4 linked regions of the Homo sapiens genome follow. The protein of the gene in region 2 interacts with the protein of the main gene of each other region in a pairwise test. Each region holds a gene or a part of one and is shown on either strand. Other genes may lie near its edges.

Region 1 (4,691 bases), on a different chromosome or scaffold from region 2:
CCAATTCTGTCTTCTCAGCCTGGCCAAGCTTTTCTTCTGTGAACTGTTATTGATTGTAAAACAAAAATTAAATATACTGCAAATAAATTTTAGGGAACCATATCAATAAGTAAAAAGCAAATTCAAAGCTAAACAATCCTAAACATACAAATAACCATGCTCCAGCTTTGTAAGCCATTGCTTATGAATACTTTTTTTTGCTCCTATGGTAATTTATCCATACTTCTTTTGTGGATGACCCTACCTTACAGTCATCACATACCCTTAGTTCTGCTAAAATGTATGGTGTGAATTCTACAGAAAACCTAAGTATACTTCTTGGTATATAAAGCATGCAACTATTTCAACTACCTATCCTAGGTAGACTAGGATAACGGTAAAGAGTAAGAGCTTTGAGTCAGTTGAATCTGAATTCAAATCTTAACTTTGTTCCTTGCTGTGTGAGCTGAGCAATGTATTGAATATTTTTTCTTTAGTACCCTCTATTATAAAAGAGAGACAATACATATTTTATAGTGTTTGGGGGATTAAGTATGATTGTGTATGCAAATCACTTTGTTTGGTGCCTTGTAATTATTAAGTTTTGAAAGAGCTGTTAATGTTTATTGTGGTTTATGTCTTATTAGCACTTTAATCACACCTAGTTAGATAAATAGTTTCCCAGAACATACCATAAAACCTGTCATTTAAGCTGCTGAGGATATGTTCCAGCAATTTATTTATAGACTAACTTTTGGAACATATCCTATTCATACTATGAAGACATCTTTTAAAGGTCATAAAATGTGGTTAAACGTACTCAATGAATCAATTTTTATTATTGAATATACTGGTATTTGAGAAAAGGTAGCACTGCCTATATAATAATAAAGCAGTAAAAAGATTCTGTGTAGATCTACAGCCTTCTGGATACTTTTAATTAAACATTAGAGGTGATGACTCAAGCTGTTTATCATGCATCATTTTCCTCTAGAATATGTGGCTTCCTCCCATCTTAACACAGGTATATCACTAGCATTAATTCTGTGCTCAGTAATGACTCACTTCTGGCTGACAAAACAGTGTTCACCTTGCCTTTCTCTCCTTTCGTTTCTCAAAAATCTCGTTTGCTACTCTATTTTCTGAGTTTTATTGTTTCTTTCAGCATCCTTCTTCTTGGTTTAATACTTTCAGGTTATTATCAACACCTTAAGCTGAAGGATCCTCTAGAATTCTATTCTTAGACTTCTGGTTACAATCTCCACTGAGGCTCCTGTTTAGGGGCTAGAAATAACAGCTTAAATAGCTTTTGTAAAGCCTTGGGTCTTTTTGAGAATGGTCTATAGCCAGCCCCTGACCTAGTGGGTAGAACCAAAAATAGCAGTTACAAAGCTATTGCCTAAGCCCATAAACTTGCAGTGTAGCTGGAGGACTGGGCACTGAGCAAAAGCAAACCCTGATCCCAAGGCCAGCTGGATAAACTATGCAACCTCATTCTTAACAGAGAACCCCGTAGTCTTTACAGATCCCTGAAGATTCTAAGCAACAGACCTCCTACTAGACTTTTACATGTTCAAAGTCTACCACCAATGGCTAGATAAAATAACTCCCAGATAAAGTGACCAATAGGAAGGGAAGAAAGGGAATACCTTTCACTCAGGTGAACATCACCTATAAAGAGTGATCTAAAAAAAATTCACTTAGCCCCTTAAAAATTGAAACTGCATGCATAAATTTCCCTTTAATAAGCAAGTTTATCCATTTGTTTGTTCATTTTGTTTATTCCTTCAACAAATACTTATTAAGCACCTACATATGTGCTAGGCACTCTTCTAAACACATGGGTTTCAGCAGCCAACAAAACATATAAGGTTTCTGTTCTTAGGAAGCTTACATTTTAATGGCAAAGACAGACAATAGATAAATAAATAATCTGATAATAAGGATATAAAGATATGAAGATGGTAAAGCGGACCAACATGGTTGGTTTGTTTCTGAGTGACATACAAATCCAAGTACAGAGAAAGAATTCATTCTTCAGGGAGAGGAAGAGGGAGAGCAGGAGAATCAGGGAAGGCTTCAGTGGGGGAGGGATGGGCAACTTGGGCCTAGAAAGGGGAGCAGGAGTTTGAGGAGTGTGAGATGCGGGTAGTTAGAGAAACAGCATCTCTGAGTAGGTAACAAACGACCTGTGACTGAATGATATGAACTATGTTAAGATCTAAGGAAAGAGTGTATAGTCCTGATGATTTATCTTCCAGTTGCACAATTTCTTTAAGCTCATTAGCATCACCCTCACACATATTAAATATTAATTTCTCTGTGGAAATCCTTAACTTATAGTTAATAACCAAGAATAGATTAATAGAAAAATCAACAGATCAATAATTCAAAATCAGTACTTATGGCCAGGAGCAGGGGCCCCCGCCTGTAATGTCAGCACTTTGGGAGGCTGAGGCAGGCAGATCACTTGAGCTCAGGAGTTCTAGACCAGCCTAGGCAACATGGCGAAACCACGTCTCTACAAAAAAATCCAAAAAATTAGCCAGGTATGGTGGTGCACACCTGTAGTCCCAGCTGCACTCCACTGCACTCCATTCTGGGTGACACAGCAAGACCCTATCTCTAATTAATAAGTTAATAATAAAATAAATAAATATAAAATAAAATAGTCACTGAATTTATCTGATACAAACTGGGGTTCAGGGCAAGTTTTCTCCCGACAGTATTTCAGGAAAATCAGCAATTAGAAAGTTAATTATTTGGAAAATAAAACACTTCAATCTTCAGGTAAAAAGGCCTGTTTGCTTAATTATTTAACATTTTCTTTGTGACTCTCATGATACTACCTCCCAGGTATCTCAATAAATATATATTCTTTTTGAAAAGAGTATGAAAGTATAACAGAGCAAAGATGGGTATTTGCACCAAGTGATTTATTTGTATGAGTCTGAGGAAGAAAGAAAATATGTTAACTGATAAAGATTCTACAAACACACACAATTAGTAGGTTTTTTTTTTTTAACTATTTTAGTTCAGAAGATACATGGAACCCTTACACATGAGTGAGACAGTCTAATTACAGAAAACCTGTTTAGAAAATAGCAGTACTGTAGGGTCACATGACAATGTTTCTATGTTTCACATTTCAGCACATCCATTTACATCTTTCTCATACTTCTGTGTCAAGGCTTAGTGTATGTTCAAAAATTCCATTAACTAAGCTGTGCATTCTACAACAAATACTCGAAAGAATCTTAAAATAAAGTAAGAATAATTGTAGAGATTAATAAATTGAGACTCAGGGTGATTAAACACTTTGTCCAAGGTGTCATTGTTGGGATTCAATCTCACATCTGTTTGAGTCATAGTCTTATCATGCTATACTACCCTTCCAGTAAATACTTGCTGATTTCCAAAATTAGTATTTTCTATTTCTATTACTATTATCCAATCATATTCTGTGCTTCCTTTCTCCTATGTCTGTTCGCAGCACTCTGGACAGCTTTCTCCCCCAGATCACTTCTGCTTTCTACAAGATATTCAATAATTATTCACCAAAATTAGTAAACTAAATCCTATCATGAATGAATAAAAGGGAGGAAGACACACAATAAGGACATTGCTAATGCTATCATATTTTAAAATTGAAATTATAAATTTAAATCTTATTACTTAAATATATAATTGTAAAAGACATAATATTTCCCAAATTTTATCATTGGTGGAAGCAAAAGGATTTTTCCATAATTAATCAGAAGTACACTTTATTAAGATAACAAATACAATATTTAATACATTTTCTCTAAAGCACTGTAAATAATGCGTCTACTACAGACACTAGGAGTCATCTCAACTAAATTAATATTTAAATTACTAATCAAAAATATTTATGGCTTCTACAGCAAGATGATCAGCATCTGATGTACTTCTTGCCCTCAAGGATTTTATGATCTACTAGGAGAATACTGCCTTGACTCAAACAAAATTATAATAATGGCACCTTTTCAGAAGGGCAAAAGACCTATTAATTCTTTCTTTTAAAAAAAGATCCCTTTCCTAGTTACCAAAAAATTTTAAATTAACCCATAAAAATTTTAGTTTTCAACATCTTCAAGTCAAAAATCATTACTGATTTTGTAATCTCTTGATAATAGGTATTAATGAGAAACTAGTTGATTTTAAGCATATCTTTTAATGAATAGATGGCAGTATAGTTTAATAATTAAGAACTTTTGTGTAAACAACCTAAAATAAAAGGCAAACTGTAAATAAGCATCTTCTTAGTAAGTCATTAAACTCAATGTTTTCTAAAATATAATTTGATACCTAATTTTTTCATATTTCATTTGTAATATGGCAAAGTGGCATAAGAATAAAAGTTTAATCCCCTTTTATATATTTTCTCTAAATATTGCTTTGCGGAAAGAATTGTCTTTGAGTCGGCTACATTATACCAGGCACTGTAATCCTTCTTTTACTACAGGATAGGCATATAACCCACATTATTAAATAAGGAGCCTGGATTCCAAACTCTACTTTTAGAAAAAAAAAAGACTACAAATAAAATGGGTGTGTGATCAAAGACATCTATTTAATGCAAACTCTAATCACCAGTATTACTAAAGGGTAATACTCTAAAAGTAATTTAAATTTCTTGGAAAATATGTAACACAGATTCTGAATAATGTATTAGTAAACTGTAAGGTGCA
Region 2 (4,691 bases):
CAGCCTGGGCGACAGAGTGAGACTCCATCTCAAAAAAACAAACAAACAAAAAAAACCCTAAGCTTTAGTTATAAGCACTGACTTGGAAAATCAGGGACCTGCCTTTAGGACAAATAAACCTAGTAGCTATTTAGGGTTCTGGAACGTGAGGTTTATTGCCTACCAAAACAATTGCATTTGTCCTTGTCATTACTGTGCTCACAGGAGGCTTAACTGGTGTAATTGGTAGGCGAGAGTCTGCCCTGTGCATTGATCTCATGTAGTTGATGGACCCACAGGCTATAAGGGAGCTGAGTAGAGAATGTTCACAAATCTGAGGCCCATCACTTGGAGAAGCAAGAGTTTACAACAGAATACTTTATTTGGAAGGTCAAAATCATTCCTTCGTAAAGTAGCAGTTTGCTAACCAAAATAGCCCAGTTAGGTGGAGGAAATCCCCAACAACCTGAGGTCTCATGGAATTGTGGTTGTGTCACTTTACCCAAAATAAATGGGCTTCTTGGTACCTAGTGTCATATATTGGCTTACTGGGCCAATACTGTGCTTACTGTGCCAAGCACTATGCTGAGTACTTACTTAATTCTCAACCTAAGGTGATTACTATTCTCACTTAATCAGTGGAAGAACTGAGAAATGAATGTGGTCATACAGTAAGGAACTGGTACAGCCGGATCCTGACACAGCCTGACTCCAGTACCAGGGTGTTAGAACTTTGGCTATTCTGTTGTTCCACCTCAGAAAGCAGCTGCCAAATCTTTACAAGACATCCACTGTACCAGGCTGGTGGTCCTGGGCCTGCCCCTTAGGACCTCTCCAACTAAGAAACTGCCCTGTTCTGTGGCCACAGCAAGAGAACCAGAGGCTGCCTTCCCAGTTACCAAAACTTGAGCCCTGTATGCAAGCCCAGGCCTTGTGATTCCTCTGCCTAAGGCAATAGTTCATCTTAAAATAGTCTTAGCAAAGGTTTTTCTGCTCAAGGACTTGATTGTGAAAAGTTGTTCTGAATCACTTAGCACTTAAAAGCTTTTTTTTTTTTTTGGAGACAGGGTCTGCTCTGTCATCCAGGCTGGAGTGCAGTGGCCTGATCATCAGTCTTGAACCCCTGGGCTCAAATGCAAATGGTCCTCCCACCTTGGACCCCCAAAGTGTTGATTACAGGCGTGAGCCACTGCGCCTGGCCCAGAAGAGTTTTAAAATTGCAATTGGAGTAGCCATAGATTTATAGAAGTCCTCTGTAGGTTTCACCAAATGTGAACACTAAATGAAACTTTCGCAACACTAAAATGAAACTTTTTTATTTTGCAGGCTGACCAGTGCACCGGTCTTCAGGGCTTCTTGGTTTTCCACAGCTTTGGTGGGGGAACTGGTTCTGGGTTCACCTCGCTGCTCATGGAACGTCTCTCAGTTGATTATGGCAAGAAGTCCAAGCTGGAGTTCTCCATTTACCCGGCGCCCCAGGTTTCCACAGCTGTAGTTGAGCCCTACAACTCCATCCTCACCACCCACACCACCCTGGAGCACTCTGATTGTGCCTTCATGGTAGACAATGAGGCCATCTATGACATCTGTCGTAGAAACCTCGATATCGAGCGCCCAACCTACACTAACCTTAACCGCCTTATTAGCCAGATTGTGTCCTCCATCACTGCTTCCCTGAGATTTGATGGAGCCCTGAATGTTGACCTGACAGAATTCCAGACCAACCTGGTGCCCTACCCCCGCATCCACTTCCCTCTGGCCACATATGCCCCTGTCATCTCTGCTGAGAAAGCCTACCACGAACAGCTTACTGTAGCAGAGATCACCAATGCTTGCTTTGAGCCAGCCAACCAGATGGTGAAATGTGACCCTCGCCATGGTAAATACATGGCTTGCTGCCTGTTATACCGTGGTGACGTGGTTCCCAAAGATGTCAATGCTGCCATTGCCACCATCAAAACCAAGCGTACCATCCAGTTTGTGGATTGGTGCCCCACTGGCTTCAAGGTTGGCATTAATTACCAGCCTCCCACTGTGGTGCCTGGCGGAGACCTGGCCAAGGTACAGAGAGCTGTGTGCATGCTGAGCAATACCACAGCTGTTGCCGAGGCCTGGGCTCGCCTGGACCACAAGTTTGACCTGATGTATGCCAAGCGTGCCTTTGTTCACTGGTACGTGGGTGAGGGGATGGAGGAAGGCGAGTTTTCAGAGGCCCGTGAGGACATGGCTGCCCTTGAGAAGGATTATGAGGAGGTTGGAGCAGATAGTGCTGACGGAGAGGATGAGGGTGAAGAGTATTAACCTGTGTGCTGTACTTTTACACTCCTTTGTCTTGGAACTGTCTTATTTTTGTTCTGTAAATGTCTATTGCCGTAAATTGTTAATAAAATTGAAGTTTCCATTTTAAATGTCGAGCTGACTTAAATACTTGATCCAGTTAAAGTTGGATGTATGAGGCTGGTAGATGAAACCACCTGAGTCGAGGGTCTTGCTCTGTCACCCAGGCTGGAGTGCAGTGGCATGATAATACATAGCTCATTGCAGCCTCGAGCTCCTGGACTCATGTGATTCTCCTGCTTCAGCCTCCTAAGTAGCTGGGGACTGCAGGTGCACACCACCATGCCCAGCTATTTTTATTTCTTGTAGAGATGGGGCCTTGCTATGCTGCCCAGGGTGGTCTTCAACTGGCTTCAAGTGATCCTCCTGCCTCAACCTCTCAAAGTTTTGATTATAGGCATGAGCCACTGCCCAGCTTCTTGGTTTATCTGTTTAATTTGGGCCTGAATTAAGTGGTTATAGAATCATTTTGTAAGTGAGGAAACGGGTTCAGATTGAGCCAGTGCTTCTCTAACTAAAATGGATGTGAATCACCTGTAGATATTAAAATGCAGGTTTGGGGTCAACCTGGTGGCTCATGCACTTCGGGAGGCCAAGTTGGGTGGATCACGAGCCCAGGAATTCGAGACCAGCCTGGGCAACATGGTGAAAACCCATCTCTACCAAAACAAAAATTTGCATGCTGTGATGGCACCTGCCTATAGGTGGGAGGACCACCTGAGCCCAAGGAGGTTGAGGTAGTGAGCCATGATTGCACCACTGCATTCCAGCCTGGGTGACGGAGACCCCTGACTCTCAAATTTAAAAACAAAATGCAGGTTCTAATTCTATAGGCTTGAGGTGAGGCTTCAGACACGTCTTAAATTTTTTTTCTTTGAGATGGTCTCTTTCCCAGGCTGCAGTGCAATGGCACCATCATAGCTCACCCCCACCTTGACCTGGGCTAAGCCATCCTCCCACCTCAGCCTCCCAAGTAGCCAGGACTACAGGTGTGTTCCACCATGCCTGGCTGATTCTTGTAATTTTTTTTTTTTTTTTTTTTTTTTTTTTTGGTAGAGATGGGGTTTTGCCATGTTGCTTAGGCTGGCCTTGAACTCCTGGGCTCAGGCAATCCTGCCTCAGCCTCCCAAAGTGCTGGGATTACAGGAGTGAGCCACTACACCTGGCCCCTAGATACGTTTTTTAATAACCTCCCAAATGATGCTGTTGGTCTGATGTGACCACATGTACAGTAGCAAAGGGTTAGATAACAGTAACTGCTGGAGCCAAAATTCAAGTGCCCAGCCACACTGCCAGAACTATTGCTGTCAGTCTTTAATAAAGTATTAGTCACACGAGAAGGGCTTGGAATCCTGATTTATTCCATACTTAGCTAAGACCTACAGTGGCAAAGATGGTTCGTACTAAAGGGGTTATTGTTTAGAGAAAGTGGAAATGTCAGACAAAATAACAGTCACCGGTTTTTCTGGTATTGGCATTTGACCCAATTGTATGTCATGGAGATTATTTGAAGTAGGAGTAATATGTATGTGTAGGAAAGATTGGAGAGGGGTGAGTTCTCTGATTTGGACTTTTTTCCAAGCACCTGTTGGAGGACCGTGGTTCTTGGGGGCAGACGGGTGAAGGGGCATGAGTGTTATACGTAGCTGGAGAGCTTGGTGCCTGGTACTCAGTTGAACTAAGCAATGGGAAAGGACAATGACCAAAAGGTGAAGCTTCATGCAGAAGGGAGGAATCAGTTTTGGTGCTTGGGTGCTTGCCTGAGTGGGAATGCCTAATGAGTGGTAGCAGATGGGCCCTGGGGGCAGAGTTGCAGGCATACTCACCTCTCCTCCGTGACTTACTTTATTCTGATGTGTACCCAGTTACCATCTCTTTCCCAAAGGTGTTTTGTATCCCTTACCCATTGCTCACTTTAGCCCCTTTGCTCTGAGAATTGCATCTGAAAGATGTGCATGTTTAAGGCCAGCGCTGGGGTTCACAGCTGCAGTCCCAGCACTCTGGGAGGCCAAGGTGAGAGGATTGCTTAAACCCAAGAGTCTGAGACCAGTGCCTGGGCAAGAGGGTGAGACCCTGTCTATTTTGAGCATTTTTTTGGCCGGGTACCATGGCTCACGCCTGTAATCCCGGCACTTTGGGAGGCTGAAGCAGGTGGATCACTTGAGCTTAGGAGTTCAAGACCAGCCTGGGCAATATGGTGAAACCCCATCTCTACTAAAAATACAAACAATTAGCTGGGCATGGTGGTGCACGTCTGTGGTCCCAGCTGCTTGAGAGGCTGAAGTGGGAGGATTGCTTGAGCCTGGGAGGTGGAGGTAGCAGTGAGCTGAGATCGTGCCACTGCCCTCCAGCCTAAGGGACAAAAAATTTTTTTC
Region 3 (4,691 bases), on a different chromosome or scaffold from region 2:
TACTCAGAGAGGCTGAGGCAGGAGAATGGCGTGAACCCGAGAGGCGGAGCTTGCAGTGAGCCGAGGTCGAGCTACTGTACTCCAGCCTGGGTGACAAAGCGAGACTCCGTCTCAAAAAAAAAAAAAAAAAAAAATGTGGATGATAATCTTGACCTATAATGGGGTGTGAATGGTTACAGTAAATAGGATTTGAAATTCATATAGAACTGGTTTTGAATCTTGTCTCTGCTTTTTAATGAGTATATTACCTTAAACAAGTTACTTTCTGACTTCAAGTAACAGTCCCTAGATACAGAATTATGTTACACATTTTGCAGTGTTATAAAGATTAAATAATGTATTCAAATGGCATCACTCAGTGAATATTCAATAATTGATAGTTTATATTATTACCATCATCTCACGAGTTTTAGAATTGTATCAATTGGTAATTTCTAGTGAAAACAGCCATGTAAATGATCAGTGATGTTAAATATATTATTATTAACAAACAGTTTTTTCCTTTTCAGCAACTCTTATCTAAATGCCCCTGGAAGGAATACAAATCAGATTCTGGAAAGCCTTACTATTATAATTCTCAAACAAAAGAATCTCGCTGGGCCAAACCTAAAGAACTTGAGGATCTTGAAGGTAAAATGGGGAAAAGTAGTTTTCAATGTATATGTTTTACATATATATGCCATTCACTTTGAAACAATTCCTCCAGAATAGGATTGTTCAAACAAAGGCCTTATTTTTTTTTTTAATTAAATGATTAGAACATTTAAAATGGCGTATAACAGTTTTTTGGGCTCTTATTTTCTTGTTGCTTTAGATCTCAGTTCTGTAGATTTTAAATAGATTTTTATTTGATTTGATTCCACTGAAACTAGGATACCAGAATACCATTGTTGCTGGAAGTCTTATTACAAAATCAAACCTGCATGGTGAGCTGCTTTGATAATTCATTTTCTGTCATACTTAACATTTTTATTAGAGTATGTCACTAATATTCACTAACCATAATTGGATAAATCTGCAGTGAAAAATCTCTAAGAATTCTTTTCATTAAAGGGTTATATTATAAATGAGCTTGTAGCTTTTAAAGTCGTACTTTGGTTTTTAGAAAAAAGATCGTTTATCATTCAATTGAACAAGGAGTTCATATACAAAATTTCCAAGTCCTACTATGAGTGGTGCATACATAGAACATGTGTTTTAACTCATTTCATGGTAATAGATAGTGGAGAACCTTGAATCTGTATCCATTTATATTTTGTTAGTATATTGTCAGACTATATATTTAATGCTAGTTTTGTTTAGCACAGTGTTGCAAAATAGCCTTGATATGTTCTTTATGGAAGAATTAAGGTAAACCAAGTATCATGCCTTACTTATAAAGGGAAAATTTTTCAACATTGGAACTAATCAGAATAACCCTTAAAAATCTAGAAATACTTAATACTAAATATAAAACCTAAGACTTAAAATAGAGATAATAAGTAAGGATTGAAAATCTAGTTTTTATACTCACTTCTAATAGAATCTAGTGTCATAAATTATACAAAACTAGAAGCAGCAGATTGTAGGAGAATGGGGCTAATAAAGTAGATAGTGATGTGGAATGACATCTGGCAGGAAAAGAGAATAAAAATTTCCTAAAAGACTGTCATATTAAGCCCCTTTACCTTTTCCTTGTGCCACCTCATTAGATAGATAGATCATCATTGTATCAGAAAAATGTTAATTTATATTATTAATGATAACTTTGTAAGTATGTTTTTTCAGCCATCCTAAACAGATTTTCAGAAATGTTTTTCTTTAAAGGGTGATAAGTTTTAAAAATTTTTTTTATAAAGAGTTAGGCTTGTATTATTACTTAATGTGGAGAACCTCATTCCCTAGTAATGTTAAATAAAAGGTATTTTTGTTACATCCAAAGGAAAATGTACTGGAATGAAAAATGAAATTGTGCAGATCTTTAAAGCTCAGTTTAAGTTACCTATACTAGCATTGGCTAATAATAATATTGTAGATAGGTAGATTCCCAGTTGATCATTTATGAATTATCAAGCTCATTTCTGATATAACCCTACTACAAATAGTTGGTGTGCGTAACTATCTATCTACTTGTCAATGCTAGTATATATGTGCTGGAATTTTATAATAAATTTGATCCCATTTTGAATTTAGTATCTTAAAAATATATCAAACTAGTCTCATCCCTGAAGAAAATACAGTTTTCATCCAGAATTATGCAGATACTTTCATAGAGTTGTTGCAGCAGCCTTTGGGAAAGCAGCAGCATGGAATAAGCTTTCCTAGTAATTACTGTTATTTAAGTTTGTTGTATTCTTTATTTGCTATACTAGACTTTCGGAGCAAGAATTTGTTCTGTAAAAGTGATTTTTTATTTTTTAGGATGGTAAATGAAATCCTATTGTATGATACTTTATCTTCTTTTAAAGTTTGTTTTCAGTGATTATATTTTAAAACTAGTAGATGACTTTTTTTCTCTCTTTAATAGCAATGATCAAAGCTGAAGAAAGCAGGTAAGCAATTTTGGACATCAATTTTTATTTACAAATTTGGTCTCTCCTATGATATCCTTGTGTTTTCTCAATTTTCATAATACAAATAATTAACATGTTAGGCTTGATATTTTGATGTCCTTGTAGCATTTTGTTGAGGAAAAATTAGGGAGGGGGATATTTACTCAATTTGATGTTTTGCTATACAGTAATTATTAGAATTTGGACTGTATCCCTTAACAAATTAAGAAGACTGTGTTACAGAAGAGTCCCAAATTCCGTTTGAGTTGATTAGGGAATGGACGAAATATATCTGTGTATCTCTTCCTTTATATAGGGTTTCCTCTAAATGGGCAAACTGGAGAAAATTTAAAGTTCTTAGAGAACTTTCTAATACAGGTCATTTTTCGTGGTGTAAATACAGTCTGATAGATTGGGTATTTTATAAATGTGAACGCTTACTGAACTTTTGAGTGCCTGTAATACATTACCATGAATGTTAACGGAATTAAAGTAGTACAGTTACATTCTGTGGTTTTAAAATCTTTTTTAATGGGCTTGGCATTTCTTGCCGTTTTTTCCTTCAATTATTTTTCTTATTATTTGATTTTATGACCATTTTAAAGCTACCTTTATTTAGCTTTCTGATTACAATAATGAAATGACCAGTGTTCTCTTTTTTTAATGTATAGTAAGCAAGAAGAGTGCACCACAACATCAACAGCCCCAGTCCCTACAACAGAAATTCCGACCACAATGAGCACCATGGCTGCTGCCGAAGCAGCAGCTGCTGTTGTTGCAGCAGCAGCAGCGGCAGCAGCAGCAGCAGCTGCAGCCAATGCTAATGCTTCCACTTCTGCTTCTAATACTGTCAGTGGAACTGTTCCAGTTGTTCCTGAGCCTGAAGTTACTTCCATTGTTGCTACTGTTGTAGATAATGAGAATACAGTAACTATTTCAACTGAGGAACAAGCACAACTTACTAGTACCCCTGCTATTCAGGATCAAAGTGTGGAAGTATCCAGTAATACTGGAGAAGAAACATCTAAGCAAGAAACTGTAGCTGAGTAAGTTTAGTAACTTGTCTTCTGAAAATCAGTACCAGATTGCATTAAATAAAAGTAATTGCCAGTTTAGTTAGTGGCCATTAATAGTTTAAATAAATTTTTTTGAGAATCGTAATATCACCGTTAAGACAGTTGATCAGTTTTCAGGCCGAATTTTGGAGGGTTATGCCAGCAAACTTGAAAAATAGTTCAGTGAAATTTTAACAAGTAGAGCCAAGGCTAGGGAGTTGGGGCACAAATCTAAAAGATTGCCAAAAACCTTAGTAAGCAAGATACATCATATTTTGATGCAATATTTTACATCAGATCAGTGCAAAAATTCATGATTAACAAACTATCAGTATTTTCAGTTAAGACAGGTGTATTGTTTCTTCTTTGGTTATTGGTGTTTTGGGTTTCAACCTCCTATAAATCAGTTAAAAAAATACAGCTTTGTAGAAAAATGAATTATGGGGGAAAAAAAAGCAGTTTATGGCTGGGCATGGTGGCTCACACCTGTAATCCCAGCACTTTGGGAGGATGAGGCAGGAGGATCACTTGAGGCCAAGAGTTTAATATCAACGTGGGCAACATAACAAGACTCTGTCTCTACAAAAAATTTAAAAATTAGCCAGCACTTGTAACCTCAGCTACTGAGGAGGCTGAGGCAGGAGGATCACTTGAGCCTAGGATTTCAAGGCTGCAGTGAGCTATGATTGCACCGCTGCACTCCATCCTGGGTGAGACAGCAAGGCCACCCTGTCTCTCTTTTTTTTTTCTTTTTTTTTTTTTGGCACAGGGTCTCCCTCTGTCACCCAGGCTGGAGTGCAGTGACGTGATCAGGGCTCACTGCATCCTCGACCTCCTGGCCTCAAGCGATTCTCCCATCTCAGCCTCCTCCTGAGTAGCTGGGACTACAGGCACACACACCATGCCTAGCTCATTGGCCTGCCTCAGCGTGCCAAAATGCTGGGATTATAGGTGCGAGCCACTCCACCTGGCCAAGGAAAAAAGGCAATTTACAGAGAAAGAAAGTTGTCTAGGAAGTATATGAAAAGCCATTCAGCCATAATAATAAAGAAATACAAGTTAAAATAATACTGTGATTATTTTTCTAAGTGAAAGTCAAGTAGAG
Region 4 (3,798 bases), on a different chromosome or scaffold from region 2:
TGTCCAGAAAATACCAATTTTATACCAACTGCTTAGGGAACAGTAGAATAATTTGATAACCCTGTGCTCTAGATGAGGTCATGTGCAAGCCGCAATTGATAATAAACTAGGGCTTATCTGCTTCCTTTACATGTGGAGAAAATCAGCAATTATACAAGTAGATTTTTTTTTTCTATTTTTTATAGAGATGGGCTTTCACCATGTTGTCCAGACTGGTCTCAAACTCCTGAGCTCAAGTGCTCTGACCGCGTCAGCCTCCCAAAGTGCTGGGATTATAGGTGTGAGTCACCACATCTGGCCAACAACTAGATTTCTAGTAACTAGGTGTGGTAGCTCATGCCTGTAATCCCAGCACTTTGGGAGGCAAAGGCAGGAGGATCACTTGAGGCCAGGAGTTTGAGATTAGTTCCAGCAACATAGCAAGACCCTGACTTCCCCCCGCTCCCCCACAAAAAAAAAAAAAAAAACCCAGAAACTCAGGACTAAATGGTAGCCAGTAGCTCTACTGTCCTATTATTAAAAACACTGTGTTATAACTCTTGACTAATAATTGTGGCTTGTGTCCCAGAGGGCCCCTCCAGTGAGTCCCTTGATGTCTCAATTTTCCTTTGTCTGTAGATTGTGACTCACACACAAAACAGCACTGCAGTGTTCTTCCCAGTTTGTGCTCCTTGCTCTACCTCTGGACTCAGAGAAGAGTGGAATGCATACATAAATGAATGGAGGAGAAAGTAATTGAGGGAAACATCATTGCACAAGTTATTTTGGCAAGAATCTTCCCCTAAACTCATATCTGATGTTTCTCTCATTGAATTGTATTGACTCCAGCTAAAGCCACATCCACTCCCAAAGGTTCTCATGGCCCAGCATATGGAGGAAACTTCAATGCCAACTTCCAGGCTCAATTATATGAAACTATGTGTAACCGCACAAATCTACAGGCTCTCAAAAAATAAACTGGAATGTTCTGGTAGTTAAAAATATGCCCCTACAGTAGTAAAATCTGTTTTGAACTGCTGACATGCACAGGGGCCTGATTTATCATTGCTGCATTGATTAAGGGATAGACTTGGAGGATTTAAGTGAGGTAAATAGAAACTATCAGCACTATTATGATTTTTAACTTATCTGCAAGCTCCACATTTAGAGTGTAGCTAATTGAGATGGCTAGCATAGCAGCCAACTTTTATTCAATGGAAGGTATGTGGCACCTTTCTCTTTCAAGAGACAAGACCTCCCTCTATTACCAAGGCTGGAGTGCAGTATTGCAGCCATTAACTCGCTCCAAGCTCAAACTCCTGGGCTCAAGCGATTCTCCCTCCTCAGCCTCCCAAGTAGTTGGGATTACAGGTATGAGCCACTGCCTAGCTATGGCACCTTTTACTTTACTTGCTTATGTTAAAAACACTTTAATCAAGGCCTTTTCCTTCGGAATAATGAAATATTAAATGTTTCCAGAAACTTCAAGTTGCACTCACAGTTCTTATGGATAGTCTCTAGAAACACATGCTAATTGCCACAAAGCTGGAGCTCTTTAGTAGTGACCTACTAGTTGTAAATTACTGATCACTATACTAGTTGTAAATTAGTAAATCCTCCTGGTTTTAGTTCCATTTTACTGAGTATTCTGCTGCCAGCCAGTCATTCCACTCCACCTGTGTGCACACACATATAACCTTAAGGATGCTTTGTTATCAGTGTTCTCTCAAGTTGGTTGAGATTTATTGCTCGTCTTGCAATTTTACCATAATTATCACCAGTTTAGTTTGCAGTTAAGTTACTGACAATCCCTGCAGTTCAGAATGACAGAATTTACATCAACAAAAATCTAGTCATTTAACTAGATTTTGAAACTCCTAATGATCCAAATGAGTAATTCACACCTATTACTGAAGCAGATGCACACATAATAAAAAACCATGTACCTGTATTGTATTTCATGCCTGCGACTGTTAGTCTCTTGAGTGCATTTTAATTAGACTTCCTTTCCCACTAGTGAAATCCAACGGTAGTCAAGTTTACCACTATCAGGCCTCATATTACTTAAGTACTTTGCAACAGGTAACCCTGTTGACTACTTCCTCCTTCCTAAAACTTTTTCCACCTGACCTCTGGGAGGCCCTCCCTTGGTTCTTACCTCAGGGGCAGTTCCTTCTTTTTTAAAATTTTTAAACTTTTTTCAGATAGTGTCTCACTGCCGCCCAGGCTGGAGTGCAGTGGTATGATCACAGCTCACTGCACCCTCAATCTCTCGGACTCAAGCCATCCTCTCAGCTCAGCCGCCTGAGTAGCTGGGACTACAGATGCCCAATTAATTTTTTTAGGTCTCCCTATGTTGCCCAGGCTGGTCTCAAACTCCTGACCTCAAGCGATCCTCCCCACTCAGCCTCCCAAATTCCTGGGGCTACAGGCATGAGCCATGGTTCCTGGCTAAATTTTAGAGATGGGGTCTCCCTGTGGTGCCCAGGCTGGCCTCTAACAATCCTACCTCAGCCTTCTGAGTACAAGTGCAGTGGGAGCACCTCTTAATTACCTTTGTTGGTTTCTCTTTGTCAACCAATCTCATGTTGGAATGCAGTCTATCCTCTCTCCAAATGACCTTATCCTGTATCATGGCTTTCAATGTCTATTGTTATCTTTCCACTCTCTATATAGTTCTCCAGCTTAGACTTCTCTGAAGAATCAGCATCTCAAACTTAACACATCCAAAACTAACAAAACTAAACTCGACTTCCCACCTCAGTGCCAACTTTCTTCCAAACGCTCAGACCAAAATACTTGTATCAACATTAAATCCATCCTCACCCACCAGCATATCCTGTTGTCTCTATCTTCATTTCCTACCACCTCAGTCTACTACCCTAGACTAAGCCACTATCTTTGCCTTAAAAACACATTATACACAATTATTCTATGCTTTTACCCTGCCACCTGGCAGCCAAAGTGATCCTTTAAAAATTTGAGTCATATCATGTAACTCTTCTGCTCAGAGCGCCTGTGGTTTCCTTGAGGTCTGGTCTTCCTTCCTTGCACACTCCCACTGCTTTACAACCCTTCCTGTCTTCTTGGGTTAGCAAAGTGGCCACTTTTTTCCCAGAACACATCACACTCCAGACTAACTGCTGTTGTCTTGGCCTGGAATGGTTTGTCCTGATATCCACATGGCCTACTTCCACACCTTCATTTGTTTTCAAATGTCACATTACAAGGACCTTCCTAGAAAAGTCCTCTTGCTCCACTCAGTTGTTCTCCACACTTTAACAAACCCTAGGGCCCACAGGCTACTAAAGCATGCCTTTGTTAAACTTAGCATCAAAAACAAAATGTTATGAGCTTTCTGATGTTCACATCCTTATTCTTGCCCAAAACGTCTTGACCCTAGGAATAACGAGAAAAAGATATAAAATGAGACAGTCTTCAAAGTCTGAGAAGATTCTACCTGGAATCTTCAAAGGTTTACCATGAGGTAAACAGCTGGGGTTCATCACTTCTGACTTAAATAGACATGATAAAATGCTATGTCCCAGCCTTGATTGGATCTGGATGTTGGGAAAACAGCTAAGAGCACTGAAAGGACAACTGGGGAAATACCTCTTCTGCAGAACTGAAAATCTTCAAAACAAGTTGGAGCAGTGGAGCCCACAAAGTCTCTGAATTGCTACTTGTCTGTTTCAGGCTTCCAAGGCTAGTTCACCAATTAGCTTCCATCTCTCACCTCAAGGCCTTCTTCACTATCCTGGTTTCCCCAGCTTTGACCACTGCCTGAAAATTCCCTTCCTGCTATCATTTCAGAGGACA

What was found.
Region 1: the proteins of TUBA1C (region 2) and SH3GLB1 interact in binary tests that used the Homo sapiens proteins (3 or more experiments, as listed by UniProt).
Region 3: the proteins of TUBA1C (region 2) and PRPF40A interact in binary tests that used the Homo sapiens proteins (3 or more experiments, as listed by UniProt).
Region 4: the proteins of TUBA1C (region 2) and TPT1 interact in binary tests that used the Homo sapiens proteins (3 or more experiments, as listed by UniProt).

Annotation. Positions count from the first base shown.
Region 1 is NC_000001.11:86,711,076-86,715,766, reverse strand, and holds part of SH3GLB1 (endophilin-B1), read right to left. Parts: intron 44-4,691; coding exon 1-43. UniProt on the Homo sapiens protein: May be required for normal outer mitochondrial membrane dynamics. Required for coatomer-mediated retrograde transport in certain cells. May recruit other proteins to membranes with high curvature. May promote membrane fusion.
Region 2 is NC_000012.12:49,270,948-49,275,638, forward strand, and holds the end of TUBA1C (tubulin alpha-1C chain), read left to right. Parts: intron 1-1,305; coding exon 1,306-2,280; 3' UTR 2,281-3,653; downstream 3,654-4,691. UniProt on the Homo sapiens protein: Tubulin is the major constituent of microtubules, a cylinder consisting of laterally associated linear protofilaments composed of alpha- and beta-tubulin heterodimers.
Region 3 is NC_000002.12:152,675,291-152,679,981, reverse strand, and holds part of PRPF40A (pre-mRNA-processing factor 40 homolog A), read left to right. Parts: intron 1-509; coding exon 510-630; intron 631-872; coding exon 873-926; intron 927-2,506; coding exon 2,507-2,531; intron 2,532-3,202; coding exon 3,203-3,577; intron 3,578-4,691.
Region 4 is NC_000013.11:45,331,780-45,335,577, forward strand, and holds the end of TPT1 (translationally-controlled tumor protein), read right to left. Parts: 3' UTR 1,692-3,798; downstream 1-1,691. UniProt on the Homo sapiens protein: Involved in calcium binding and microtubule stabilization. Acts as a negative regulator of TSC22D1-mediated apoptosis, via interaction with and destabilization of TSC22D1 protein.